3 separate regions of the Homo sapiens genome follow, and regions 1 and 2 are each linked to region 3. Evidence: fine-mapped expression QTL. A gene starts in region 3. Each other region holds a variant in brackets. All regions are shown on one strand. Distances are between the middles of the regions. Region 1 holds the start of BIN3-IT1 (BIN3 intronic transcript 1). Region 2 overlaps CCAR2 (cell cycle and apoptosis regulator 2). Region 3 holds the start of BIN3 (bridging integrator 3).

Region 1 (10,123 bases), 26 kb after region 3:
CCCAGCTAATTTTTTTTTTTTGTATTTTTTATAGTAGAGACGGCGTTTCACCGTGTTAGCCAGGATGGTCTCGATCTCCCGACCTCGTGATTCACCCGCCTCGGCCTCCCAAAGTGCTGGGATTACAGGTGTGAGCCACCACGCCCGGCCTCACAGTTTTTCTTTAAAACTTTTTAAATGTGAAGGATTTTTTTAAAGTGTTCTAATAGGGCTTTTGAGCAGGTGAGTTGAAAAATAATCAGAACAGTATGATAGGTCTCTGTGATCATCAGTAACTGTGGTGAAAATACAAGGAAAGAGCTGTTCCGTCTGCGTGGTGTACATAACCTCTTATTGTGCCAGAGCACCCAGTTCAGCACGAACGTCCTCCCATTCACTTCCAGACCCTTAAGAACAATGAGCCCCTTGGAATTCTGTAGGACTTTGAGACTAGGTGTTTTCATCACATACTTATAACAAATTCATGTGAAAAGAGTATTGAACTGTGGGTAGCAGAGAGAAAACTGGGCTGGACACCAGGGGTGCTGGTTGCTTCTTCCTTGTTCTCTTGTGAGCCAGCAGAGTGACCCTGGGCTTGTCACTGAACCTTTCTGGATCTGCTTCCTCATCTACAAAAGGAGAGGGTTGAACTGGGGAAAAAATTTCTATGGTAACTTACAGTTCTAAAAATACCGTGATACTAAATTAAGGTTTAGAGGGAGGCTGTCACACCACAAATAATGGAATCTACGTTTCTGATTCTTGGTCCCTTGTCTACAGTACTAAACTCCAAGAATCGTTTTGAAGACCACTCTGAGACTTCTTTAGAATTCTCATCCTACTCCCCATATTCTTGGAGTGGAGATTCAGTTTAGAATTCCAGTTTTAGATAAGCTGAAGGGATTCCAACTCCTTTGTTTTATAGTTTAAGAAACTGGGCTCCAGAGAGATTGAGATTTGTTCAAATCACAAAATGAGTCGGAGGCAGAGGCCACGTTTTCTGATACCGGGTCGAGAGCGCTTTCAGCTGCAGCATGCTTCCCACAGAATACAGGCTGTCTGTCTGCAATGCCACTGGGACCTCATTTGCAATGTCTCCAGAGTGGTCCTTGCCACCAGGACCTCATTTGCACTGTCTCCAGAATGGTCCTTGAGGGCAATTGCTCACTGTCCAAAAACCATCCTGTCTGTCAGCTGTAATCCCTGAGAATGGGAAAAGTAACCAGGGTGTGGGGAAGGAACCCATCTCCCCGTGAACCTTTTCTGTTTAGGTCTGAGAAAGGAAGCAACAATTTCATTTTTTCTTTCCTTTTCATTTCCAGACCTTACCTTTCCTCCCTGGTTATTATGTAGTCAGAATTTATTTGTTTACAGAAGATGCGAATCAGCCAGCCCCCAAAGGGTTAACACTCCCAAATTATGGGGCTGGGTTAACAATAAACAGGATGTCCTCCAGAAATTAAATTTAAACCACTGTGACTCAGGCTGGCCCATCCCCTCCACTGGATCACTGTTTGGGGTCATTATCGGTGGTTAATTACACCCTTGGGTTTAGCAACAGTGTGTTGGTCAGTTTGGGCCAAAGGAAAGCAGGCTCAGGGAGAAGGGGGTGTGGAGGGAAGGGTGGGATGTGGGCCTGGTGGAGCGGGTCTGGTGCATTGTGGAAACGGGAGGTTTGAATGGAAGAGCCAAAAGGAGAGGGATGAGCATGGCTGGCTGAGAGCCCTCTGCCGGAGCTGATCGCAGGGATTCTTGACTCACTTCCTACCTGGGATCGGGAGTCTACCCTTTCCATAGCCATTGGGATGCACTTTCTAGCCTGGCCTCTTTTCTTCCTGGAGTTGGAGAATCATAGAATGCTCAGTGCCTCAAGGAAGCTCCTAAATTACCTAGTTTAATCTACTCGTTTTATGCAGCAGGAAATGGAGTCCCAGTGCAGCCGTCACCTGCCGAAGGGCAGCCTGCTCAGTGGAAGCGGAGGCCAGGCTAATGCTCAGGTTGAGACTCCTAGACCCATGATCCTCCTTCCGCTGTGCCATGCTGTAAAGTAGGGAATCTGAGGTGCAGCTCTTCATAGCAAGTCCAAGGCAGACTTGGGCTGGATTTCAGATTATTTTCCAAGTTAGCAGCTTTTTGATTTTGTGAGTTTTCCCAGGGAAATAATCCAGCCCGGCCAATCACTAATGCCTCTGTTATTTATTAACTCTCCCCAGCCTCCAAAGAAGATTTGCAGATCCAAAGTTTGCCCCTCTATAGAGAAGTAGCAAAGCACCTAATATAGACCATAATGATTCGTGATTTCAAGGATGATAGCTATTACAGTGAGTCTGTAATTTCTGAGTTTGCACCTCCTCAAGACACAAGGTTTTATTGTCATTCACAGGGTGTCTTCCCTTTCCTGCCATCCTCGCGGGTGTCTTCCCTTTCCTGCCATCCTCGCCTTTCCTCTCTTCCCCTTTCCTTTCCTTTCCTTTCCTTTCCTCCCCCTCCCCTTCCCCTTTCTTCCCTTCTGTTCCCTTCCTTTATCTCTTTAAAAGACAGGGTCTCCCTCTGTTGCCCAGGCTAGGGTGCAGTGGTATGATCATAATTCACTGCAGCCTCAAACTCCTGGGCTTAAGTGATCCTCCTGCTTCAGCCTCTCAAGTGACTGGGACTACAGGCATGTGCCACCACGCCCGGCTAATTTTTGGTGGTTGTTTTTTTGTGTTTTTTTTTTTGAGATAGGATCTTGCTATATTGCCCAGTCTAGTCTTGAACTCCTGGCTCAAGCAGTCCTCCACCTGGGCCTCCCAAAGTGCTGGGATTGCAGGTATGAGCTGCCATACCCAGCGGATTTTTTTTTTTTTTTTTGGAGATAGGGTCTTGCTCTGTCGCTTAGGCTAGAGAACAGTGGTGCAATTATAGGTCACTACAGCCTCAAACTCCTTGGCCTCACCTTTTCATTTTCTTTAAATGACAGACTATCAGTAGCAAAGATGTTCTGGGGCAGAGCAACCTGCATCTGACACTGTAGGTGGGAGGACCTATCTCTCTCTTAGAACCAAGCCCAGATGCCAATGGTTGTATGCCCACCAGGGCACATGGTCCAAGTAGCAAGCCATGGCCACGCTTCCTCGCCCTCCTGGGGGAAAGTGGCCTGTACTGTACTGATACTTTGAGCTGCATCCTTCCCCACTTCTCACAATATCTCTCTTTGTCTCTTTCTCTTATAGGATTCCTTTTAAGATTGGGCAGCCCAAGAAACAGATTGTGCCCAAAACAGTGAGTAACTCGATTGTTTTGCTGTGAGATTCAGTTCTGTATCACATGGCCTTTGCATAAGAATCAAAGCTTTGAATCAACACATCTTGGGGCTGGGAAGACAGCAACCTGGGCCTTCTTCCTGCTTATGCGGATCTAGAACCTCACATAGACTGAGGCTTAGAGGGGCCTCCTGTCCTGGGACACTTCCCCTAGGAAAGGTTAGCCTGGGCTCTTTATCATCCTTGGGCAGGGGGAATGGGTGGATTACAAAAATGTAGAGGAAGATATTGCTTTAGAACGGTCCACCTCTAGGGACTGGCTTGTGGTCTATACTTTTCCTAAGAGTGTTCCTGAAAGAGTGGCCCCCACCAAAGACACTGCCCAGGCATTTATTTCTGTTACCTCAGCTGCAGAAAACTCCAGGAAGCTTTTCCCAGTGGCCTCGGCCTGTTTGTGTCAACTTCCAAATGCATTCTTGGCCATGACCCAGAGTCACTCAGCAGGAAAGGAAGATTGAATCCCACCCCCCTTTAAGCCCACAGTTTTTATCCCTAGAAAGTTTTTATCTCCAGAATGGGAAAGGAAGAGAATCATAGATTCTTAGGAAGTTAGAGCTGGAAGCTCATAGAGACCATCTAGTCCAACCTCCTGATTTTTCCTGATGAAGAAAATGAGGCCCGTGGAAAGTTGCAATGACTTCCTCAAGTTATAAAAACCCCACACTGGCAAAGCTGGAGTTAGAACTCAGGCGTGAGCCCCTGGCTGATACTCTTTCCATTGCCTCATGCTTCCCTGGGCAGTGAAGCCCTCCCAGTGTTTTGGAATCCCGGTGCAAAATAGCCTTTTCAACCTCCTGACCCACAAATCTGAGTGGGTCTCTTGGTTTTAACATGGGAGACCACAACTGTAGAGCCTCTCTGATGTGACAGCTACAGGAAGTCCGGTGCTGTGCTGGCGGCAGAGGCCCTCGTCTGTCATCCCAGCCCCTGACGGTTCTCCTTGTCTTACTAGCTTCTCCCCTCCTTGGCAGAGCTCTCAAAAGTACAGGAAAGAGATTGCTTCAGTGTGGTGAGAAGTTTGGCACACATCTGACCAATGGCTCCATCTCTAGCAAATCCAGAGTAAGGTCACTTGAGAGGAAACAGGCCCAAGTTAAAAGCACCCTCACAGGGTCCAGTGGCTTACGCCTGTAATCCAACACTTTGGAAGGCCAACGTGGGGGCATCATTTCAAGCAAGAAGTTTGAGACCAGCCTGGGCAACAAAGAGAGACCCCGACTCTACCAAAAAATATGCACGCCTGTAGTCCCAGCTACTTGGGAGGCTAAAGCAGGAGGACTGCTTGAGCGCACGAGTTCGAGGCCACAGTGAGCTCTGATTGCACCACTGCACTCCACCCTAGGTGATAGACTGAGACCCTGTCTGTTAAAAAAAAAA[G/AG]TTGGGGGGTGGGGCCTCTCTGCTTCATGCAGAGGCAGGGTGCTGACCAACTCAGCGCTGACCTCTCATGCAGAGGCTGACCATCTGTGGAGGCTCTCAGCTGAAGTCCAAAGAATCTGGGTGTGCATATGTTGGTCTCTAGCCGGCTGCAGGAAGTGGGAAGGTGTGGCTTTGAGTCTCCAGAGTTTAATCCATGACAGATCTGAAAGGGAAGTGGTTTCAAGAGGGTTCTTTTATTCTGAATGCTCACTACAAACAAAAACCCTCCCAGCACCCCAACCTTTATCAAAATGAACTTTGTTCTCCACAGAAAGTGTAGACAAACCAGCTGCTTTGCCAGTGTGTTGGTGGCAAGATCTCTGGCTCCGTTGATCTAAGGAGTGGCAAGGACTCGCAGTGCGGGCAGATGCACACAGGGCATCCCTCTTCCCTTCCTCGCATCTGTCTCGCTGGAGATGGAATTGTGGTCCTCTGATTATGGCATCTGCTCTCTGATAGACTGGGGGTCAGGTAGGGGTTAAGAAACTAGGTTTGGGAGGCTGGCAGCCTGGGTCCCCATCCTGGCCCTGCCACATGCTGTCTCTGACCTTGGGCAAGTTCCTTAACCTCTGGAGCCTTCATTTTCTCGTTTATAAAATCAGGATGATGACAGTACCTGTGTCACAGATGTTACTTTGAGGCTCACACAAGATAATACACTGAAGGCACCTAACACAGTGTCTGGCACAAAATAAGTCCCCAGTTAACTACATCACAGGAAGCTGGTTGATTTGACCTTCTTTATGAACCATCAGGGACTCAGCCTGTCCCAGGCAGCTAGATTTCCCAACGCAACAAAAGTCGGCTGGGCCTTTGATCTCTCACAAGGAATCACAGCTGAGCTACAGCTCGGAGTAGTTATTTGCTTCCCTGGCCTATACCCCTCCACTCCCCAGAGGCACTGAAGTAGAAGTAGTAAGACCCTGCCTCTTCAGTCTCATTCCCCACCCACCACCCCCTCCCGGCCCCCAAAACAGGCCTGGGCTGTGCAGTTGTCTCAGCATCTCTGGCAGCTGCCCTTGAACAGCAGTGACGCACTCTGTTGTTCTTGCCCAGGCACTTTCAGGGAGGGGAGCAGCTGTGGCTGCCTGGGTTATTGGAAGTCATGGAGCCCCTGTCATGGGAAGAAATGCTCACGTTATCTTCAGGGAGTTTCAGGAGGTTTTTGGCTCAAGGCACCCAACTGTCAGGCACAAAGAAAGCATTGTGTCCCTACCCTCACTGCTCTCCTGTGCCCAGGTTATTAACACAAATTCCATTATTGTCAAGGCTTTGGCTAGAATGGCTTGTTCCTGCTGGGGCTGACCATTAGAACTGAGATGGAGGAACAAAAGCTCCCCCGATCCCGATCCTAACCTTCCACCCAGTCCCCTCCCACTCCCCAGGTCCCATAAAGTGGCGGGAGCATCGTAGCGTAGGAAGAAGCCGCCACACCTTCCTCCATAACCTGGGAGGATGGAAGAGCTCTTCGAAGCTTTGCTCTTCGTGTCCCCCTGAAACAAGGGTTACTGTGAGTCTTGCACACAAGGAACATGCGCTCCAAGGTTCCTAGCCAGGTGGGTGCTCTGCAAAGTTAGGGCAAAGAGAGTCTGGCCACATGCAGCCTCTCCACTGGAGAAGGATTTTCATCTGCCAGGTGGCGGGGCCCTTAGCCTCGTTAATCCTGCTTAATCCTGCTAGAACATACCTACAGGGAGCCCACTTTCCACGCAGAGCATCCCTTGAAGGAGGGGCTTCCCAGAATGCTGAGGATTCTGGGCTTCTCAGACTCCGATCAGATGCACCTCAGCCCTGGGATCAGTGCCCCAGCCCTGCCTGCCAGTTTCCTTTTTCACTTCACCATGAGCATAAGTTTGGGTGGGAACTCAGCCTGTTCATTCACTTCATACTGAGTTCCCACTCTGTGCCAGGGCCTGACCTGTGCACTGCCAAAAGAGCAGGGAACAGCAAAACCCTTTCCTCCCACCGTGGGCCTTGGAGAATGAATGCAGGGGGTGGCCACGGGTAGTCGTCTGGGGCTTGGTTCTCCCTGAGCTAACCTCGCCAGCCTGGCCCAGCTTGCCCTGATCCCCTGATGGTCCGTGCACATGTGTTTATACTTGCATTGTTGACTGGGGTCCAATTGCCTTTTTGGCAAAGGCATCAAGCATTCAAAGATGTTCAGATCTTTTCTGTCTGGCTCTTTTCCTCGGAATGAGGCTCCAGTGTGTCCCTTTAGTCCCTTAGCCATTATCTGAGAGGCTAGAATTCTGGCAGTGTCCCCGTGCATCTTTCCCCAGTGGAGGAGAGAACTCTCGGACCAGTGAGCTAGAGAAGCAACCCACCCCGGCCGCTGGAAGCAGGGGAGGTGAAATGTGTCCAAACTCCTCTCAGGCTGTCAGATGGCCTTGAGCGGCACCAAGTAGAAAACGCGCTCCCACCCCTGACCTTCTCCTCAGCTTCATTGTGAGACCTCAAGTTCCTCAGCTTCCAGGATGATCAACCTAGCTGAAAACCTGAAGTCCCTCCCGGTACAAGTCCAAGCAGTCCCCAGCCAGGGAGACCAGGTGTTGTCTGACATCCCACACACATCGGCACACTTGGGGGATTGCAAAAGGGAGGAAGGGAGCCAAAGGCTAGGGCCCCGGGGTTCAGCTAACACTCAGCACCCCTCCCAAAGAGCGCCCCCTGTGTGTTCTGGATCTCTAGAGGGGTTTGGTTTGGGCCAAGTAGTGCTTAGTTTTAATTTTCTCTTTCTGGAAATAAATACTTTTAATAAGTAAAGATGCTGCTCAGCTGTCATATCCTGCAAGGTTAGAGGAAAGATGTGGGCCGTGCGCGGTGGCTCATGCCTGTAATCCCAGCACTTTGGGAGGCCAAGGCAGGCAGATCACTTGAGGCCAGGAGTTCAAGACCAGCCCAGGCAACATGGTGACCCCATCTCTACCAAAAAAAAAAAAAAAATTCAAAAATTAGCCGGGTGTGGTGGCTCACTCCTGTAGTCCCAGCTGTACGTGGGAGGCTGAGGCATGAGAATTGCTTGAGCCTGGGAGGCAGAGGTTGCAGTGAGCAGAGATTGTGCCACCGCGCTCCAGTCTGAGCGACAGAGTGAGACTCTGTCTCAAAAAAAAAAGAAGAAGAAGGATGTGTCCAGCAGGCTGGGCACAGTGGCTCACGCCTATAATCCCAACACTTTGGGAGGCCGAGGCGGGGGGGATCACCTGAGGTCAGGAGTTCGAGGCCAGCCTGACCAACATGGAGAAACCCTGTCTCTACTAAAAACACGAAAATTAGCCAGGCGCGGTGGCACATGCCTGTAATCCCAGCTACTCGGGAGGCTGAGGCAGGAGAATCGCTTGAACCCGGGAGGCGGAGGTTGCGGTGAGCCGAGATCACGCCATTGCCCTGTAGCCTGGGTGACAAGAGCGAAACTCCGCCTCAAAAGAAAAAAAAAAAAGTGTGTCTAGTAAAGGGAGCTAGGGCATTATCACAACACCCAAGCATGGGACTCCACCCTTAACCAACATCAGGGTTTCCCTGGCTGCTAGTTTCCTGTGTGCTTGGGGCAGCTTATAGCCCAGGTTTATAGCCCAGCCTGCAGCCCCAAATTGCTCTGGTCTTCCCAGCACCCCAGTGAGCAGGAGAAAAACACAGAAACTAACATTTAGTGAGGACTGCCATGGGCCAGGCACCTTGCAATCTGCTCTACACGCACTGCCTCTTAATCCTCAAAAGGAACCACTGGGGTAGATGATATCAGCTATTTCCTCGTAAGCCACCTAAAGTTGGCTGGGTGAGGTGGCTTAAACCTGTAATCCCAGCACTTTGGGAGGCCAATGCAAGAGGATCACTTGAGGCCAGGAGCTCAAGACAAGCCTAGGCAACATAGCAAAATCCCGTCTCCACTAAAATTTAAAAAATTAGCCAGGCATAATGGCATATGCCTATAGTCCCAGCTATGCAGGAGGCTGAGACAGAAGTATTGCTTGAGCCTAGAAGGTCAAGGCTGCAGTGAGCCATGATGCCACCATCGCATTCCAGCCTGGGCAACAGAGCAAAACCCTGTCTCAAAAAAAAAAAAAAAATGCTTAGTACTATCAAGTCTCCACAGCTAGTATCAGAGTTCATATCTTACCTGTCTCTGCTCATGCCTCTAAACTGCATTCTTCCAGCCCTGCTGGAGAAAACCAGGCTGACACCAAAGTACAGACTTTCAAGGGCCCTGGCGAGGCTCCTTCACACCAAAGCAAATTTCCCACCTGCAGTTACACCAGAGTCTTTCCGTTCCTTTAGCTAAGACTTTGGTTCCTGCAAACTTGTAAATCCCCTGGGACAGGCAACACTTTAAATGCTCATCAAGCATTTGTGCTTTAGTGGGAGTGATTTTTGAATTTTTTTCTTACGAGTAGCTTTTGCTGGATCCTAAGGTAAGTAATGATAAAAATAGTGGGTTCCTGGATGGAGAAAGAGTCTGTTGAAAAGAGGAAGAAAGATTGTAGGATGGGAGGCGGGGGCACCAATGGTGGGTTTTACTTCACAGTTTTGTGGAAGGTTCTAGATGCTAGGATCATAAAGTAAGGAAAAGATCATTTTTTTCCTGCTTCTGGATTTTACAGTTGAAATGAGGAAGGTAAGCTATCTCCATGCAGTGAGTCTGTTGTCATGCCCAGAGAGCCAGAGCTAAGCAGACTCTGTGTTCAACTCTCTCTGGCCTCATTCCTGCTGTCCAAAAGGCCCATCATAGTCAGCAAGTAAATTTGTATCTGGCAGTTGTTTATCTCCACCACCAGGGCCCATGTCTGTTTGAATCACCAGGGTATCCCCAGAACCTGGCAGAATGCATCGCACTTAATAGGTGCTCATACATGTTCGTAGGAATGAATGTTGTTTAAATTTGAAACAAAAAGACCTGAACCAGGACTCTGGATTCTAGCCTTGCATTGCCACCAGAATGTCCTGCATCCTTAGGGAAGTCACTCCTGTCTCTGGGCTTCGGGCTCCTCATTTGTAGCATAAATGCTGTTTTGTCATTCCAGGGCTATGTTGAATTAATCTAAATCCAAACGTGGAGTGCTAAGGTTAAGGGGCTTAGAATTCTCTCATCAGGTCAGCGTTGCTGGAAGACAGTGGTAGGAATAGCGTGGCTTTGACAGTTTCTGCAGATGTGTACTCCCTGACCCTCAGAGCAGAAGTCAGGATCTAGGGCTCTTGGGGACAGGATTCCCAGGGAGCAGCCAGGAAGACTTCTTTCTTGGGTCAGCAAATGCCTTCCAGGAGAATGATGGTTACGAACACAGGCTGTGGAGCCAGGCTGCCTGGGTTCCATTCCCACTGTGCTCAACTCTACCCCTCACCAATGGGGTGACCTTGGCCAGGGTACGTAACCTGGTTCCCGGTGACCTGCCTTGGAGATGAGTGTAGAGAACTGCATTCTTGTAAAGCACACA
Region 2 (9,401 bases), 45 kb after region 3:
CTCTCTCGAGCAGGCTGTGACCTAGAAAGCTCCTGTTCGCCCAGCTGCACTTCCTTGCCTCTTCTGCGGTGGTCCCAGGCAGTGCCTTGCCAGGGCCGGGTAATGAGGCTCTGCCTAATTATCACTGGCCTGGCCCAGGGCCCACACGGCAATGAGAGGAGCAGTTTTTGATCCTGCAGCCCCTGGTGTTTCGGATTGCTGAGCTGTTCGTTGATTGTGCAGGCCTGAAGTATGGGATTAGGAAAAGGCCCGCCTGACCCTAGCAAGCTCTTGTTTCTAAGCCAGGACCGTGGAGGCTCAGCGAAGGCAGGGAGGGAAGGGACTGTGCCTCCGGCTCCGGCCCTGGCCCCCCAGCCTCCCCAGAGTGGGCATCCACCACCCCCTGCCTGCTGGGGACAGCGCAGCCCCATGCCACAGGGTTGCGTAGGGAGCTGGGGTGCAGAAAGAGCTCCGTGGCTGTGGGTTTTGGTCCTGGGCTTCGGGACAGACTGTTCAGGGCTGGTTGGGAAGGACATAGACTGAGCAGACCCTGCCCACAGAGGGCTTTTCTGTGCCAGGGCCACAGGGGTCCCAGAGACGGACACAGAGGCTGCCACAGGCACCCATGGCTGGTAGAATGAGGCAGGGACTCAGAGAACTGGGGAACTGACTCCCACCTCAGTTTCAGTATCAGCAAGGCGCCCTTGAAATCTGATCCCTGGCTTCTGAAGCCCAAATGGAGAGAAACCCCGGCCACTTCCCACCACCCTGGTGGCCCACCACCTGCCAGGAAGGTGGGGGCGTGGCAGAGGGGGCGCACATCTCCGCAGCGGATCCGCTGACCTCTGCATGAGCCCTCAGGCCTGCCTGGCTGGCTTCTCCCTGCATCCCCACAGCTGACATACGATCTCCCCCAACCACATAAAACCGCGCAGCCTACAGCCTCTTCCCATTGGCTTCCTCTTGCCAGAAGAGAAGCTCCCAGGGACCCCAGCACCGGAAACAGGAAACTCCAGCTTTCCTGTCCTCTGATGAAGATCACGGCCACATGGCCACCCCACCGCCCCCAGCCTCCCTGCAGGGGCTCGGCCTCTAATCCCCAGTCTCTGGGCCGTATTCACATGTCGGATGGGGATGCTTTCAATTTCCCTTTCCTGGTGGGTGGAAGCTCCCGGCTGCGTGGGCACAGACCAAGGCATGGCAGGCATTCCCCACCAGTGCTGGCTGCGCCCAGCCCACCTCCCAGCCGGCCTCGCTCACCTTCCCTCTCCTTCTCCTCTTCGCCCCTCCCATCCCCAGGGGAGTGAGTTTGATATTGAGCCTTAGGACAGACAAGAATTGGGCAGTGATCATGGGTAATGCTTTGATCACTGGCCTGGGCCCAGCCCGGCCCCCTTCTTTGAGGATAAATGTAAAACAGACTTCAGGAGCTTACAGTCTAGTGGAAAGCCACAGCGTGTTCTCAGGTCAGCGGCCAGGTGTGGCAGCTGCCAGCGTGGTGCAGGACCATGGAGCGGGGCATGCTCGGTGGGCTGTCTGACCTGCCCCCACCTGGCCTCGGAGGCTGTTTCCTCACATGTGGAAAGAGAAAGCCAAACTGACTTCTCATAATGGGACAGTCAGCACCTAGGAGTGGGAGAGGAGGTTTTGGTGGGCTGAGGTGGGCAGGGAGAGAGGAGGGGTGAAGTGCGCTGGAACAGCAGAGTGGAGCCTGGGTCCTGGCTTCACGCCTGGGGACAGGCTCCCCCAGTGTGGTTGGGTAGAGTCAGCAGGGCCTCTGTGGGGTCCCAGGGACATATCTGGGAGGGGCTGGCACAGGCGCCCAGCCTGTGCACGTCTCCACCTCCCCTGCCAGCAGCCTGAGCCCTGACCTGAGATCCCACACAGCACCGTGGCACATCCACTGTCCACCCCGGGGCTTTGGCAAAGTCTGTTCTGTTGCTAAGAAGTAGAAAACGGGGAGATGGGGCCTCAAAGGGTCAGTGAGTGACCAGGGCAGATGTGACAGAGTCCTGGTCCACTACTCTTCAGCCACCTTGGCACAAGCTGCGCCCTGCCCTGACTGATGTGAGTTCCCACTGAATGTAGAAAGGTGTGACACTTGTCCCTACCCCTAGGGAATCCCAATCCCAGGACCCAACCTCCCCCCACCGTGGTTGTAATTTATCAGCAATCACCTCCAGTGGCCTGAGCAGGCAGAGCCTCTTGGTGGCTAAGGGGTGCTGTCATGGGAAACGGAGGTTTTCATGGTGAAGACATGCTCTTCCCACTGGGGCAGGCGGCCTGCAGAGGCAGGTGGTCTTGGTTCCAGGGGGCTGGCAGGAGCCCATGCAGCCAGGTGGCCACCTGGAGACACCACCACGCCATCCCCCGAGGAGCTCTGTAACCCGGCCTCCCTCACCCCCGCTCGGCACTCCGCTGTAGTCAGCGCTCCTGGTGGCTCTGACTCTGGCACAGGAAATAATAAGCCCCAGCCGACAGCTGTGGGAAGGGGGCTATGAGAGTGCCTCAGGGGATGTTGGGGGGTCAGGCTGCTGGAGCAACGAGCATAGGGCTCCTCCCATCCTGCACCGTGGAAGCCACCTTGCGCACACACGGCTTCACGCTGTGATGCCCTCCTTCCTGAGGATGTGAGCTCAGGGTGGTGGGATTGGGGCCAGGGCCAGAGAGCTCTCCACCTGCTGCCTCCTGCCTGCCTCATCCTTGCCCTGTCCCAGCGCCTGCACCTACCCGGCAGCTCCCAGGCACCCACAAGGCCCAGGCACTGGGACCATCCAAGCAGCAGGTGGCTTCTAACACAAGGATCAGGGCGAGGACCAGGGTAGCTGCCGGTGGTCCCTTGGCCATTTGGGGCTGAGGGAGAGGTGGCCTGGTAGCCTCTCAGGCCCAGCTGCACCTGCTGCCTGAACACGTGCCTCTCAGCTGCCCAGGAAGGGGGCAGGGCTCCCCAGCAGCTGCAGCTCCACCACGCAGCCGCCCTGGGCAAAGCATCAAGTCTAGCTCCTCCCAGCAGTCTCACCCCAGCCCACGCCATGGGCGACTATGCATCCTGGTGGTGTCTGCTTCCCACCCTCAGTTCCGTAGTGCTGAGGGGCCCGCGTTCTCTGTGCACAGTCCTGGGAGGCCCATGGCTTCTGCCCGGCAAGTCGGTCAGATGCTGGTTTGATTACTATGTCTAAGGGCACGGGTGAGCATTCAGGGTGCTTTGGTGGCTTCACCCACTTAGCACCTTGTTAAGACAGGGAGCCCCTTATGGACACTGTTGAGGTAGAGGATTCCTGTCTTGGGGATAAGCCCTTTGTTTCATCAAAATCTACTCCCTGGGTCTGACTTAGTTTGGGGGCATTTAATGCTTTGGTAAAGTTAATATCCTCTTACTCCCTGGCAAAACTGTTCATTACTCTTACCTCAAATGTACACTTGATTTGCTGAGGCTTTTTAAAAACAGGCCGGCCACGGTGGCTTACGCCTGTAATCCCAGCACTTTGGGAGGCTGAGGCGGGTGGATTACTCAAGGTCAGGAGTTCAAGACCAGCCTGGCCAACATGGTGAAACCCCGTCTCCACTAAAAATACGAAAATTAGCTGGGCGTAGTGGCACACGTCTGTAATCCTAGCTCTTCGGGAGGCTGAGGCATGAGAATTGCTGGAACCCAGGAGGTGGAGGCTGCAGTGAGCAGAGATCATACCACTGTACTCCAGCCTGGGTGAGAGAGCAAGACTCTGTCTCAAAACCAAATTCCTGGTCATGTCCTTTGAGAGGCACATCTGGGAGTCCTGCTCTGTGTGGTAGCTGAGCTCCTGGAACCTGACAGTGAGTCTGCCAGCATCCTCTCAACTCTGAGTGCCTATGATCCCAGTCTCAGTAACTGCTTCCTGCCCTCGTCTTTCCTCCTCTCTGGGTTCCTCATAAAAATGTCCAGGAGGAACCAACTCTTCTGGTCCTGGGTCACCTCCGAATGGCCACAGAGTCATGAGCTCCCTGGGCTGCGCAGCCTGATCCTGGACACTGCAGGGCTCTGGCTTGCCTGGTAGACGCCCCCTGCCATTGCACCGAGGGCCAGCCCTCCAGCAGCAGCAGCGAGAGCCTCAGGAGAGCACTGCTCCTGGTCACTAGAGGACACATGATCCACAAAGACGAGGCCGGTGTGGACCTGCAGCGTTGCATCGTCCACTGCTGCTCTCTCTGAGGGCCACTCCTCTGAGTCTCCCACGCGGTCCCTTCTAGTCACAGTGGAGGTCCTCAGGGCATTTTCCTGAAGCAGCTGGTTGGAACTTTGGCGGTTCCAATGGCAGAGCCAGAGGATTTCTGCTGCTTTCATGTTGCCAAGGAGCCCTTGAAGGAGAAGGTGCCCTGGGGCAGGGGTGAGTTTAGATTTCAGTTCTGCCACCTGCCAGTGGCACTGTGAGGGCTGGAAAGGGTGCCAGACAGAGAATGTGGACACCTGTGTTCTCTTCTAGACCTTCTCTGCCTCATCGTGACTTTGGATGAGTCATAGGTCATCTCTCTCTGTCCTCAGTTTCCCTCCTTTTTAAAAGTGAGGTGTTGGCCAGATGACTTCAAGGCACCTTCCCCACCATCCCCTAGTCCGTTGTGTGATAAAGCTCACAGGAGGTGGGGGTCAGGGCACCCTTCATTCCTGGGCCACCCTGTGCCACCCAGCTCCCTGGACCTGGCCCACAACCCCACCTCCTCTCATCTGCCCTCACCCCATGACATTGTCCACGTTCGCACAAGCTCCAGGGGACAGGGCCTCATCTGTCTTGTTCACAGTGAACTCCCCAAGACCTAGAGCAGGGTCTGGCGCTTGGTAGGTGCTCAGGGCACATTTTTGGACAAGTGAGTGCTGGCCAGGACGCCCCTCCAAGAGCGGACCCATCTCCAGCCAGGCCACCCCTCCAAGAGCAGACCCATCTCCAGCCAGGCCACCCCTTCAAGAACGGGCCCATCTCCAGCCAGCTTGTCCCACAGGTTCGGCAGTGTCTTCCCGAGCCTCAACATGGCTGTGAAGAGGCGGGAACAGGCCTTGCAGGACTACAGGAGGCTGCAGGCCAAGGTGGAGAAGTATGAGGAAAAGGAGAAGACGGGGCCAGTGCTGGCCAAGCTCCACCAGGTACCAGGGGAGACAGGTGGGCAGGGGCTAGACAGGTGGGCCATCGTGGTCACCTGTGGTAAGTCCCTCCCCTCACCTGGGGGCACCAAGACACCAGACGTCCCCACCCCACCCATCCCGTATCCGGCACCCAGCAGTGAGAGAGTTTTGACACCCAGGTCTTGTTCCCTAGGCACGAGAGGAGCTGCGGCCTGTGCGGGAGGACTTTGAAGCCAAGAACAGGCAGCTGCTGGAGGAGATGCCGCGCTTCTACGGCAGCCGCCTCGACTACTTCCAGCCCAGCTTTGAGTCCCTCATCCGAGCTCAGGTGAGGCCGCCAGGTGCTCTTCCCCTGGGCTTGGTATACACAGCTCATGCCACTCCCTGTCACCCACACTGGAAGGGTGGCTTAGCCATTCTCCGTAAAGACAGGGCACCCACCCCAGGCAAAGCCCTGAAGGAATTCATTCCATTACCAGAGTCCCAGGCTCAGCGACTTGGGGGACCTGTCTGCTGTTAGACTCCTCACATTGCTCTCTGGTAAATCCCATACCAGGAATGGCCGAGGTTCCCTTTTGGTCCAGCAGTTCCGCCATGGATCTCTCTACATTTCACTATAAGTAGCTCCTCTGCCCCGCACCCTCAAGTGGGCGGTTTCTTGGCCCAGGGTGGTGCCGAGAAGAAAGGGATCTGGAGAATGGAGGCCTTTTCTGAGGACTCAGCTCCCCTCCCCTGCCTACCGTGAGCCAGTCTTTTTAGCAGGAAACGGCGGGAGTCCTGCCTTGGAACCACTAAGGAAGGGGGCTCCAGAGCCCTGGGGAGAGCCACAATCAGGGCTGCTCCTAGGGCCCTGGGGTGGAAAGGCAGGCCTGGAGGCATGGGGGCGCCACTGGGGGTCAGACACGGGCCAGGCCCCAGCGTCTCCTTCCACTCGGGGACGGGAGGACACGGAGTGGCATGCTCCTCACCCTCCTCCATCTTCAAGCCTTTAGGAAGGATTGTTCCCCCAACTGGCAAAATAGAAAAGGGTGGGCACCCATGCCAGAAGCGGGTCCCTTCCACACAGGACCCTGCTGATGGCTTGCGCTCAGCAACAGCCTTAGTACCCCAACACCCGTGGCACCCTGCCAGGTCCCTGTGGCTCTGCCCCTCCTGGCCCGGGTGGTCTGAGCGTGGCTGGGCGTCTGGCGCCCTCCAGTGGCCATTTCCTGCAGGCCCGTAGTCGCAGCCGTGAAGCCTGGCCAGTGCACACCCACCCTGCCGGGCCAAAGTCAGGGTGGCCACCTGCCCCAGTCAGGACACCTGAGCAGGGTTCATGCCGGGGCGGGACCTTGTCAGTGACCCACGTACTTGGTCCTGTGCCATCTTTAGGGGGCAGTGAGACCTAGAGCCTTCTGCAGGAGGAGGTAGGGACTTCTCCTGACACTTGCTCCTGCAGCGAGGGCTCCCTCCAGCCGCCCCATTGGGTTCACGGGAGACCTGGGCCTGCCTCTTCCTCACTGTCACCTGGGTGCTGCCCTGCACCCTCCCTCCTGTTGCTCACAGGAGGAAGCCACAGGGTGCCAGGCTCCCGCGTGTCCAGGTTGGAGCAGATGGGAGGCCAGGGATGCCCTTTAACCAGGCAGCATTGCTGGGGGCTGTTGACTGCCTCTTGGGCCCCAGCCTCCCCCTCGCCCGCCCGGCTGCCATTAGTCATGGAGAAGTGAGTATTCCCAGTGACTCAGCGCACAGTGGCTTGGGCAGGGAGTGGGGGCAGGGTGGGCCGCC[G/C]CCAGCCCAGAGGTGACAGCAGTGTGTTGAGACCAGCTCACTTTAGCACCCCCTCGGCCGGCGGAAATCTCGCCTCAGGAGTATCAGCCGTGGGTCCCCGCCCCACCTGGCATTTCCCACAAGGTCCCCTTAGTGTCTAGAGCTCCTCCTCATGTCTAGAGTGAAACGTGGAAGCTTTCAGGAAACTGCATGCTTTCATTGGGTCATGAGGTAGAAACTGAGGCAGAAGTGGCCCCTATTGTCTGTGGAAAAGCCCCTGGTCCTCAGCCATCTGGGAGAATTGACGGGCTTCCCCATTCCTCCACCTGCCCCACCCTCAACCCTGTGTCCCCTCCCACACCATTTCTGGTGCCTCCCTAGAGGGACCCTGGCAGTGAACCTGGCCTCTGAGCTGTCCCCCTGGCCACGCAGCTTGGGCCATGAGCAAGGGTGGGATGCAAGTTGGGAGGGAACAGAAGGCTAGACGGGCATCCCCTTTCTTGCCTGTGCCTCTAAAGCTGGCTTAGGGCTTTGGGAGCCATCAGCCTACCATGCTGTCTTTCTGCCATGGACAAAAGCCTTGGGTTCTCCCCTAGCTTACAAAAAGCAGTAAAACTCCAGTCATGGTGCCCATCATTCCACAGTCGCCCTAGGAGGCCCATGCCTTCCTGCACCTGCTGCTGGGGGAACCAGGAGCCCGAAGCAGGGGCGCCTCCACCTCCAGCCACTGAGGCCCTGTTGCTCCCCGGCTCCTTTTGGTTCAGTCTCAGCTAGAGCCCTTCCGTGCCCTGCATATCCCCAAAGGCACGCTGCTGCACAGCTCCAGATGGGTAAGGGCAGGGGGTAGCAGAGAAGTGTGAGCCTCTGGCCCCCTGAAGCACACGGTTCCCTGGAGCCAGCACGTGCCAACCCCTGTCGCCTCCCCCAGGTTGTGTACTACTCGGAAATGCACAAGATCTTTGGAGACCTGTCCCATCAGCTTGACCAGCCAGGCCACTCCGATGAGCAGCGGGAGCGGGAGAACGAGGCCAAACTCAGTGAGCTCCGGGCCCTCTCCATTGTGGCCGATGACTGAATCCCCGTCACTCTTGGAGGACTCCTGTGACGTGGTCAGCCTCATTCATCCTTGCCCTTCTCAGGGCTAGCTGCTCCTCTCACAGGCTGGGGACAGAGGTGGCCCTGGTTCACTTGCCGGCCCTTTGCAATGAATGACTCTTCCTGAGCCTGGCACCAGGAGCCCTAGGCAGGCCGCCGTCTCCCCACTCACAGCCCCAGCAGGTAAGCAGTGTAGACAAACCCTTGGGGCTTTTTTATTTGGAGAACCGTCCAGCATGCATCCTGGCCCACGGCCTGAGCAAGCTGCAGCCCTTCTGAGGCCATGGGCTTCGTTGGCTAAGTTGGGGGTCTTAGCCTTGCATGCGTTGTGGGCATCAAATCTACCTCCAAAAGACCCATCCTGGGGAGCCCTCTGGCCCCTCGTTGCCTTTTCACTTCAAAACCTCTTTTTTCTGGGAGAGGCCCTGAACCCTGTGCGGGAGAGCTGGTCCTCCAGCCCTGGCAGGCCCTCAGCCAGCTTCCCAGCAAGACAAAGGGCACCCTTGTGGCTTTGGGACCTAAGTGGTTGGGGTTCCCGAGGTCACTGAGGACTGGTACCTCGGGAACGCAAGCTGTCAGTGGAACTGTCCCACAAGAATTCACAGGTCTCAAAGCAGGAACAGTGGGTTTGTGTCTCACCTGAGTATCTGGAATTTTATTTTTTCAAGTAAAATTTTCAATGAAACGTCCACATAGTATTGTGCTGTAACTTAGGCGAGCAGAGGAAACCCCTTCCTGGGCCTGCTGCCCTCCACGGAGCAGCAGCACCCTCCAGCAGGCAGCCCAGCATGCCAGGGGTGTGTGCGCACCTCCCCGGCCCTGGCCCACCTTCTGGAGCGAACTGCACCGTGGTCCAGCAGAGGCGCTGGGTGGGAGGGCACGCGGGCAAGCCTAGGAGAGTAGGAAGAGCTGTGGAGGACACACTCTCAGTTTGTTTTTGACTTTGGTTTATTTAAAAAACAAGCCAAAAAAAAAAAAAAAAAACCCCAACTTTATATACAAAGTCAAACTGAAACCACGGATTATGGAAAGAGGCAAGAATTATGGGTAACAGGGGAGAAGGCTGGGCCAGAGCCAATACCACATTCTGAACACAGGAGCCACGGGAAAGAGGTGCTGGTTTCTTCTGGCAAGACCGGGGTGACTGGAACGCAGTGTTCTACTGGCAAACCCAGCCCAACACTGAGCTCTTTCTAGCATGGACTCCATTCCCGTGATGGCCAAGGGAGACCCTTCCCCCAGAAGCCTGTGTCCGGAACCTAGCAGAGCCTGTGCCATCCGGAGGAGGGGGCTGCTTAGCCCCAGCCAGGCTCCATGTCTTGCTCTTCAGTTCCGTTCACTGACATCAGACCTTGTCCCACACTCGAAAAGCCTTTTTCTCCCCTGTCTTATTCTAAACTGGAAGAGGACAGGAGAAAGTCAGCACAAGACTAAAAGGGCCCCAGGAGAAATACCAAGGTTGAGGGCAAAATGACATTCTAGGGGTGCA
Region 3 (10,123 bases):
CCCACTTCTGACACCTTGCACCAACAGGCTAGACTGGAACCTCAGCTCTCCAGCCCCACCAGCACCAAGGTGGGAGCAAAGAGGGCCGCACTGGGTAGGAACATCAGCCAAAAGTACTAGATACTGCCCCATGGAGATGGAGAAGAAGGGAGAAGGCCAAAGGGTGGGGAGTGGGGCATGAGCACCAACCTCACCTGCCAGGAATGTCTCAACCCCAGGTAGAGCCATGAGGGCCCCAGCTCAAGGCAGCGGCCTTAGCCATACCACAGCCTGGCATGAGCTCCACATCACAGACATCCTGAGCCCCAGCTCAGGAGCTGTGTCTTCAGTGACTTCCTCTGACTTCCCCTTCTGGGTGTGCCCTGGAGCTACCTGGAGGAACAGACCATCCAGACCCAACTCAGAATCTCAGGAGCCTTGGACTCAGTGGTCCTACTGCCAGTTCTCTCCAGTGGGTACCTCCTATTGTGGGTCTGGGGCCATCTTAGAGCCTACCTGTCAGGGGGCAGCCCAGCCTGGACAGCCCTTGGCCTGATGCCCAGGGAACATATCAACCCGGGGGGATTGTTTTCCCTACTGGTGCACTCTCCCTCACTCATGTCTCCTCCTGGTTTCTGTGAGCTAATCAGAGAGAAGGAGGGGGAGGAGGGGGTGCTGCTTGCCTTCCCCGTTATCTGCAGCAATCCACGGTGACTAATGCTCCCAGTTGGTAAAAAGGCAGTGTAATCAAAACACTTTTTTTTTAGTCCTTAAAGTTAGTCATTCTCCCAGAGTGGAGGAAAAAAAAAAAAAAGCCCACAGCAGGCACCACGAGATGCAAGCTGAGAGGCCTGCACTGCTGGGTGGAACCAAAGCATTGGCTGTGGCAGCTCCTGCAGGTCAGAGGCCAGGACTCCTCCTCCTCTGGGTCCTTGGCTATCCTTCCTCCACACCCGCATTTGTTCTTGCTTTCCCCAGCATCTGGGCCTTCTGATCCCTGAAGGACGTCCATGCCATGTGAGGAGCTGCCCTTTCCTGTCACCCTGCCCGGTGCTGCCACCTGCTGGCCTGGCACTCTCCGTACTGGAGGAAGCATATAAAAGCTCCCAGGATGAGGCTGAGCTTGGCACCCTGGTCATAGGGTGGCCCTCCCTCCACCCACAACCTGGCCATTTAGTAGCGGTGCTTCTCCTGGTTCCATCTGTCTGCTGGCTTCTGACCTCACTGTGCCTTGACAGAACCAAAGGTTGTTGGAGGTCAAATGGCAAACTGTAGTGGCAAAAGCATAAGGATCAAAGCCAGGGTGCTCAGGTCAGAAACCCCACTTCACTGCTTCATGAAGCTATACTATTGCTTCATGGCTATACTTCAGCGCCATCATCTGTGAAATGATAATAATGGTAGTATCCACCTCACAGGGTTGAGGCAAGGATTAAATGTGAACTGCAGAGAATAGTGCCTGTCATGTCATGAGTGCTCAATTATTGTTAACTTATAATAAAAATAATAACAATAAAGTGGAATATAAACCATCTCATCGCTCTTTCTTGTCCAAGGCAGACATGACTAATCAATCATAGAACTTCCCCACTGATGGCAGATTCCCCAGAATCCTCAACACTGCATTCCAAGCAGACAATCAGAGTTGGCACATGGGATGATATCCATTCGCCCTCCCAGATCTAACCTGGACCTTTCCCATTGCAGTCAAGGAAAATGAGGCCCAGAGGAGGGACAAGACTCCCTCAAGCCACTTGGAGGCAGAGCCACGGGTCAGACAGGCGTTCCTGGTTCTGCTCGCTTCTTGCTGTCCTGGCTTCTGATGTGTCACTTCACCCTGACCTTTGAGCAGTCCGTGTGGGCCTCCCACCACTGGAAATCTCACCCTGATTTCCTCCTTCTTCTCCCACCCTTGCTCCTCCTCCTATGTCCTTGCCCCCCAAAGGCCCTGGGAAAGCTATTTTTCTGAGACGTCCTACTGAGCAGGTACAGAGTAGGGAGAAGTGGGGCAGTGAGGCCACAGAGAAACCTGAGGCCTGTGTCTGAATATCTGCAGGAGCCTCCCTGAGGAATCAAGACCTTTAGGGCTCCAAGAGAGCTGAGCCCACCAATTTGGCCCTATCACATTCAGTTTTTCAGCCTTAGCCCAGTGCTATAATGAAGTCCCTGACAGCCCAGGTCCAGGTTCTGGGAATGCTCACTCTTCACTAATAAGAGGTTGGCATGGTGAAAGACTCGGGGGCCAGCCCTAGACTTCTGTGTGGGAAAGGCTGGGAGAGACAGGACATGACAATCCCAGAGATGAGAGTCAGTGGGAAGCACCTGCTTACCAACTTCTGAGCAAAAACCTCCAAGGAAAAGTTGGGGGCTGATGGTGGAGCAGGTTCTGCTGCTGCTTTTCCCCTCGTAAACAGCTTTGTCCCAGAAGTAGACCTCTGCCACCTGAACAGTCTTTTACCTTCAGGCTCAGACTTCTGGGGAAGAATCAGTATTTACAAGGCTTGAAACCAGGAGTATCCACCTCTACCCAAAGCGCCTCCACTCTCAGCTTCTACTTAGAAACCCAATTTTCTCTTTTCCATTCCTTCCCTGCAGGGGCAGGATCAATCTGTATCATGCTGTCCCTTTGGTTATAAATAAGAAAGACATAGCTCCCGACCCTGCAGGCTGAGTTTTTCACAACAGTGGGAAGTGTTTGTGTGTCTCCATGTTCAGCTCCCCAGGGATCAATGCCTCATGGCACAGCAGGCTCATGGAGGAACACAGGATAGCAGGATGCCTGACTGTCCCTCCTCAGCCCAGTGCCCCTCTAGCTGAGCGAATGAGCCACAGGTAAGGAGACCAAGCAGGCACATTCCAGACAGACTCCTGGGAGGACACCATTCTTTTTAGTAACCTCAAAGATCCTGCTGGCTGCATTAAAGATTTCGAGGTGACCTGTCAACAGCACAGCCCCAGAAAAATTCATATTTAGCTTTATCCAAGATATCACCAGTTCCTCAGACCTGCCCACTTCTCTGGGCTTGCCCCTCTGTTCACCTGCCTTTCCCATTCTCCTATTTCCCTAGGGCCTCTAGAGTCAACAAGACAGCTGACTTGGAACCTTGCAATGTTGGATACTTTGGGATGTGATCTACCCACTCCATCTTATAGATGAGGGGACTAAGGCCACAAAGGGGATGTGACTTATCTGAGGTCAGTTATAGTGTCAAAGGTTGAACTGGAAATAGAGCCGCAGACTCCTCCAGACTTGTAGTCCAGAACTTATCCATTCTAGTCCTCTAGGATGTGTCTGCTGCCCTCCAGCCCTGAAACAGACTTCTACTAGGATATAGCAGTTACCTAGGCTAAAACGTTTGGAAATATTTATCCCTGTGGGGCATAACTGAGGGAGGCAGAACATGGGGAAGGGAGGAAGCAGGTGGGAAAACTATTCACAGGTGCTAACTGCCAGGAGGCTCCTAAACCCACAACAGCCCTTCCATCCGTCACACTCTCTGCAAAGCAGCAAGGACTCTCTCTTTCCCTTTACCCACACTCTCTGCCCAGGCTACCCTTTGGTGACTTCTGCTCTTCCTCTTTACTCTTCAAGGCTGCTCTTGTGCTCATTTTGGCCTGTTTCCTGAGGAACAACATGGTAATGAAGCTGATCTGCATGATGTGCTTGGGGATCCAACCTCCATTGGAAACGTCAATTGAGTCAAACTATGGACTCTCAAGAATGGAAACAGAAAACACAAATGAGAGACTGCATCCTGTGGCCCACCCTCCTACCTCTCCTGCTCAAGCCCTCTACTCCACCCTAGGAGGTCAAAACAAATCATACACTACTTCTGCTCTAGGTCATTGGTCATATTTTTCCCGCTAGGTCATTGATTAGCAACCCCCTAAGCAGTCCCTGAAACAATCCCGGTCCATCTGAGGAAGGAGAATTCCTAGAGAGAAGGTCACTGGGGGCCCAGCAGCACCTGCACGGGCCTCACTGCCTTCTTGTCTCTCTTCCAAGGCAGGGAGGTACTTAGCGGTGAGGAAACCAAGTCGGCCCAGAATCCCAGGCAACTTGTGAGCCACTAAGGCCCTGAATTCTGACTTTGGGAGACCCGAGGCAAGTCAGCTGCTTGCTTGGTCCTGTCTGTGTCTTAGCCATGGTAAGTTCCCTCTGCCTGGAGCCTCGTCACCCCTCATCTCAGATTCACCTGGCTAGCCCCGATTCTGCCTTCAGGGCTTGGCTTACACACTGGCTCCTCCTGGAAGCCTTCCCCAAAACCCCATGTGCTACTTCAGGGTCCCCTTCTAGGCTGCCACCACACCTCATTCTATCCTATCCTATAGCATGATTATAATTGCCTGCTTGTCTCTCCCTCCAGGAAAGTAGCTCTGGGAAGGAACAAGAGCAGGGCAGATACTTCTCTGAGATAGCTGTATCCTAAGGTTGGCTCGGTACCTGACACTAATATTAGTGCAACTAGTATTAGTTAAATGAAGGAATAGAACGAATGGGGCAATTTACATCATTTGAGTCCTGTAGAGGAGACCAAAGGGAAGGGCTGAAAGGCAGGGAACAACTCATACTCTGCGTCTTATTGTGTTGAATAACTCTAGGAAACATTCCAACCTGAAAAGCACCTATCTATTGATATTCAGAGCCCTGTGCCATCTTGGAAGGGAAACGTCCGTTTGTTTGTAACAGGTAATGCATGTGTGGTGTACAAACTGTAAAAGATAGGAAAGAGCATTCAGAGAATGTAAGTTTTCCACTTTCTCCATCCCAAATGGCTTCTTCTCCCACAGACAATTGCTGCCACTGTCTCTGGATTAGAAACCACTTGACAGAGGGGACAGCCCGGCTAAGGGCCCTGCATGGTCAGGTGAAGAGATCTTTAGGAGTCAGTGTTGAAGGCAGAAAACGCCCCCAGAGGTTCCCCTCATCCCCCGTTGCAGCCTGTGTGTCTAAGCGCTTGGCCAGAGCCAGAGAGTCGCCGGCAAGGGAAACTCCGCGGCGAGCACGCAGCAGCAGAAGGGTTAACGCGCCGGGCTCCGCCTCCCAACCGCCTCTTCCGGGCAGAGAGGCGGGCTTACGTCACTTCCTGGAGACTGGTTGAATCCGGAAGTGACCCTAGAGAAACGAGTTGTGGCTGAGGACCCCGGCGGCAGACGCAGGTTCGGGACCATGAGCTGGTGAGTGAGGCCCAGGCGGCGGGAGCTGCTGGACCCGCGGACCCGCGAGGCCCCTGGCCCTGTGTCAGTGCCGCGTCCCGGCTCCCTCCGGTCCCGCGCGACCCCTCCGCCCCAGAGCAAGGCCCGACAGCCCCTGCCCTAGGGTCGTTCCCTCGGTGCTTTCCGGAGTCGCAGTCTCTCAGCAGGACTCCCGGGGAGAGTGGCGGATGATCCTCTTAGCCTGGGACTCCGCGTCTGACCCGTTTTGCCGGACTCGCGTCCTCCTAGCTCCTTGAAGTGAGGGACTTCCTTGTTCCCTCCTTTTTTAAACACCCATTGAGGTGGAGTCAGTGTCGTCTTTCTCTCCTGTGGGCATCTCTGCCCCGCGCCAGTCCCTCCAGAGCTGTGGCCCTCGCTGTGGCAGCCTGGACCCAGTTCACTAATCAAAACCCACTCCCTTCTGGGTAACTATCCTCTTTGCACGACTTAGCAGGCTTCAAAAGACAAGGAAAACTTGCTTCTCTTTTTAAAGGGGCCAGAATTACACTCCGCACACACCCTTCCACTGTGGGATTGGACTGGTTTTAATCATTCCAGAGCTATTACTCACTGCCTGCCCTCTAAATAGGCATGGTTAAGTTTAAACTTATGGGAACTATCATGCCATGAGAAAAGAAGCCAGGGAGTCTTAGAGTAATAGAGTCACAATTCCAGTTGCTGCAGTATGATGTGATACTTGGGTCATAGTAGACACTTCATAATGGTGTATTTATTTTGTAAGACTCAGTTTGCCCAAAAGGCAATCCCCATTTGTTGCTCTCGATTATTTATGTTCACAGGAGAGAATTGTGACTTGCCTGCCTTCCTGGGGCTTTCTTAGAGGTTAGAGAATACTCATATGCAGCACCTTACCTTACCGTCAGGCCCAAGGACCTATATAGCCACAACCCTGGACCTCAGGGGATTCAACTATAGTGTGTGAATAAATTGAGCCCCAGAGATGTACAAGATTAATCAGCCCATGGACATAGGGAACATATTTGCCACTCTGTCCTCAGAGGCTAGTGTGTTTGTTTATGCAAAGCGCATGATAACCAGTTATGAATGAATTAAGATAACAGAATGTCCTTCAGGAAGGCTTTTGAAGCTTAATTTTGGCCATCAGTGGAGAACGCAAGCAGCTGATATCAGTCAGTGTCAGGGATACTTCTCTAAAGTAAAATGCGAACCATCTGTCCCCTCCCCCACCTGTTTCTTAGACCAAGATTGATGGACAAATGTCAGACAATCACCGCAAGCACGGGAGGAAAGCCTGAAGCAATGTCCTAATAAGCCCCGGCAGGAGCTTCTGCTTTTCCCTCCACCATTTGCTCCAGGAGGCCAATAAGGGGCTGGAGCCTTAAAAAGCTACCTTCCCTGTCTTGTTATAACCTAGTTAGTGGTGGGCAAAGCGGCAATTCTTCAGTTCCCTTTCCCAGAGGAATTACGTCCTTTCAGTGTCATTCTGGGCCCCCCAGTCTTGCAATATAGATATCCTTTTGGCTGCTGCGTCTTGAATCTTTGGAGTGTTCTTACCTAATTTTTCAAAGTGAAAATGAGGCAGTACAGATGCTTTATATTGCCTAGATTGGCCTTTACTGAACCAATCTTTCCTTCACAAGTTGGGAGAAGAGCACAGCAGAAACTAATAAAGGTAAATGATTCTCTGGGTGATCCGAAGCAGGTTGTTTCCACCTGTCTCACAGAAAGTTTCCCTTCTGAAAAAATAGTAGCCCATTCCTTAAAGGTTATCCTGTCAGGTTGGAGAGAATTGAGATTGACAACTGTCTAACAAGAGCTGAGATTTTCATCTAGTAGCTTTAATTTACCAGTACATGCACATCTTGGTATCTCCTTGGACTGAGAGTCACAGCCAGAAGGGTGGCTTTGTCCCTCAAAGCTGAGATTCCTTTCTCTTCCCCCTTAAAGGGCTTCTACGTCATCTCTTGCGTGGACCCTGACCCTGTCTCTCAAAGACGGGAACAGCACCGGCGCCTGGGCACACAATCACACTCAGTTCCTAGCTCAATGGCTGGCAAGGAGACCGGGGCTGGGTCCTTCTGATTCACTCCCTGAGTGGTTTTCCTGCCCCCAGAATGAATCCATCCATTCATGTGAGACTGGAATTCTCATTAGGGGAAGAGACCAGAGTGACGTAGAGCCATCATGGGAGGCTGATGCCCAAGGTCAAGTTCACCAAGTACATGGGCTGTGCCAAGCCATCATTAAATAAGGCACATGGCCCATGGTCCCCAGAGGGTAACCATTGTTCTGGGCTAGGCTGAGCTTTCAAAATGTCACAGTGAGAAATGTCCAATATTGATGCCCTTTGCACACTGTGGACTTTGCATGAAGAGTGAGAGGCCTTTGTTCTCTGCTTCCTCTGTGCAGGCAACCCGCCCACCCCCTGTTTGTTTAGTGGGTACCTGCTGCCTTCCTGCACCATCTACCCATCCACTCCCCATACACCCATCTGCCTTTCAGAAAAGTGACCCGGTGGTCTGTCCTACTAGGAAGAAGGCATTTGATATTCACATCTCAGATCACAGATTCACTTCTTGGCCTCAAGCCAAATGCTTCTCTCTCTCTCGCTCTCTTTTTCTCTCCCATTGTCCACCCCACCTCCCCCCGCCATTTGCCCCCCTCCCAACTTTCTCTCCTCTCCTCCCCACTCACCCCCTCCCTCCCTATTTCTGTCTCCCTCTTGTCTCCCTTTTCCCCTTCCTGTCTCTCTTCCCCATCTTCCAGTGTATACTCAGGTGGCTTTATTATGGTATGGAGAGAGGATTAAGTAGAATTAAGAATAGTGACCTCAATCTAAGCTGGCTCCAGGAATTGTAGCCTCCTGTTGAACCATACACCTTGATGATTTTAGGCTTAAACGAGGAGGAAAAGGGAGTACTGGAAGAAATCTCCCTATACCTAGGGGTCCAGTAGTTTGACAAAAAGGAAGGAAATTAGAGGCAGAGCAGGTAAGTGTGAGTAGGAGTTAGAGTGCTGCGTTCAGGTTCTGGCTCAGCCACTCACAGTGCGGCCTGGTCAAGCATTGAGCTGTTCTCTGTCTTAGTTTCTCCATCTGTAGCATGGAGTGGCCATTCCTGCTGACAATTTGCCACCTGAGCCTGCTGTGAAATGAGTGGAGTGATATTTTTCTGACTCTTCCGGGGTCTTCTACCTCTGTCTGCCCTTCACACTTTGGTGTTCCTCATGTTTGATCCTTTTTGTTTCTTTCCTGTTTTCACCCTGTAGTCCCTTGCCATCATCTTCAGGATAGAGGCCCAACTCTGGGCCAGGGCTTCTGAGGCCCTCTGGGCCTGGCTGTCCATCTTCACTCCGTGTGTTCCATCCTCCAAGCTTCTCCTGCTCTCTCGTGCCCATGTGCCTCTGGATAACTGTCCCTTCTGCCTGAAATGTTTCCCCTTCACTCACACCCTGTCCACTAGGCCAGCATCTACTCATCCTTCAAGAGTCAGGCCACGCTTCACCTTCTCTGAGGGTCTTCCCTGAGTGGCCCCTCACACCCTGCCATGCTGCACTGGGTGCCGCTCTTCTGACCTTCATCAGCATCTGTACTCCGCTGGCTGGTTTACTTGTCTGTGAGTTCTTGAGTATGGGGACTGTCTTGTGGTCATTGCTATTCCCTAGCACTGTTCCTGGCAGTCAGGAAGTGTTTATTAAATATATGAATGGGGCCTTTTTTCCCTTTTCCTGACTTGCCTCAGCTCAGGAAAAATGTTAAGATAAAAACTTGCAGAACCTACAAACCACTTCCTAAAATGAAGAGCCTCTGAAAGTACTATTGTTAAATTGACCGACACAAGTGGCTTCCAGGTCAGGCTGCCTGTGATTTCTCCTCCCCACTCCTTCTGATCCTCCACTCCAAAGTGCTTTGCTGGGTTTCTTCTGTACTTCCATAGTGCTTCTCCTGTAGCACTTCTGCATCCTTCTGAGTATCACAGACGTACACCTCCCTTCCACACCAACCCCATGAGAACAGGAGCGACATAGAGCTTCTTCATCTTTTTGTACGCATAGTGGGTATCATGCACATAGTGGGTATCTAACAGGTAATTGTTAAATGAATGGAATATAAAGAAGGTAAACTTCTGGGTCAAACAAAACCATTATTCAGTTTTTTTCTCAGTGAAGTCCTTTCCCCTATGATTACCGTTGCTGTCTCACATGTGTAGAGTGCTTCTAACTTTTCAGATGGCTTTCCCGTCCTTTGTCTGACTTCATGCTTATGTCTGCGCAAGCAGTGCAGTCTTATGATCCCCCTTGGTAACTTACTAGAATTCACTCAGCTAGTACCTGGAAGAACTAGAACTAAAATGTGTCTCCTGAGTATTCTGTCCCCATGATCAGGAATATTAGAAGAGTAGCAGACCATTCCCAAGCTGATTGGATCACGGAGTTTCACTTTGCTAAGGTGTGTTGACACTAGCAGGTTGGTAGTGAATCACAGGGAGTTGACAGTCTTCACACATAAGTGATAGAGGAAGTCCTTGTGTCCTGCAGACCTCTAGGTGTTCTGTAACTGGCTCAGCTTCTTCCACCTATGGGGCCCCTGCCTAAGGCAGCCTCATCACTCATGTCCTCTGTGACTTTGGACACACCAAGCTTTTCTTCCTCTGTGGAGAGCATAGTAATGCCTTGAAGACAGGGGCCCTATAAAATGTCTGTGAGATTCTGTATGTGAGCTTGCTCTTATTTCAGGCGTTTAATGAGAGGAGAAGGATTTCTTCCAGATCTTGGAGCAGTCAGAAAGAGTCAAGTGTCTTGAGTCCCACAGCTACTTAGTCAGAGGTGTTATATGTATTATACTCTTTAAGGAAATCTGTCGGAGTAAGCTTTAGAGTCAGCTGTTAAACCTATTAGAATTGTTTTCCCAAACTCATGATTTTGGTGGCTAATCCATCAAATAGGGCCCAGTATAGTGTGATGCACA

The links. PIP is the estimated chance that this variant, and not a neighbour inherited with it, causes the effect. A credible set is the group of variants that fine-mapping cannot tell apart.
Region 1: its variant is the best candidate, but not a certain one, in a credible set for the expression of BIN3 in whole blood (TwinsUK, PIP 0.65).
Region 2: its variant is the best candidate, but not a certain one, in a credible set for the expression of BIN3 in lymphoblastoid cells (GTEx, PIP 0.73).

The regions. Positions count from the first base shown.
Region 1 is chr8:22,637,872-22,647,994 of GRCh38, reverse strand. BIN3 (bridging integrator 3) reads left to right here. Exons shown (of 9, transcript NM_018688.6): 2 at 3,192-3,240. It overlaps BIN3-IT1 (BIN3 intronic transcript 1), which reads left to right and starts at 5,786. Exons shown (of 1, transcript NR_027715.1): 1 at 5,786-7,624. The variant G/AG (reference allele first, on the strand shown) is at 4,659.
Region 2 is chr8:22,619,913-22,629,313 of GRCh38, reverse strand. CCAR2 (cell cycle and apoptosis regulator 2) reads right to left here. Exons shown (of 21, transcript NM_001393997.1): 21 at 8,843-9,401. BIN3 (bridging integrator 3) reads left to right here. Exons shown (of 9, transcript NM_018688.6): 7 at 4,951-5,092; 8 at 5,265-5,399; 9 at 7,746-8,896. The coding sequence ends at 7,892. Among named protein-coding and RNA genes, the nearest start is that of BIN3-IT1, 18 kb to the left of the region's middle. RefSeq lists enhancers at 1-323, 324-957, 2,225-2,858 and a silencer at 6,182-6,351. The variant G/C (reference allele first, on the strand shown) is at 6,839.
Region 3 is chr8:22,664,078-22,674,200 of GRCh38, reverse strand. It overlaps BIN3 (bridging integrator 3), which reads left to right and starts at 5,080. Exons shown (of 9, transcript NM_018688.6): 1 at 5,080-5,157. The coding sequence starts at 5,150. RefSeq lists a cis regulatory region at 372-1,221, enhancers at 4,911-4,970, 4,728-5,357 and a silencer at 5,221-5,380.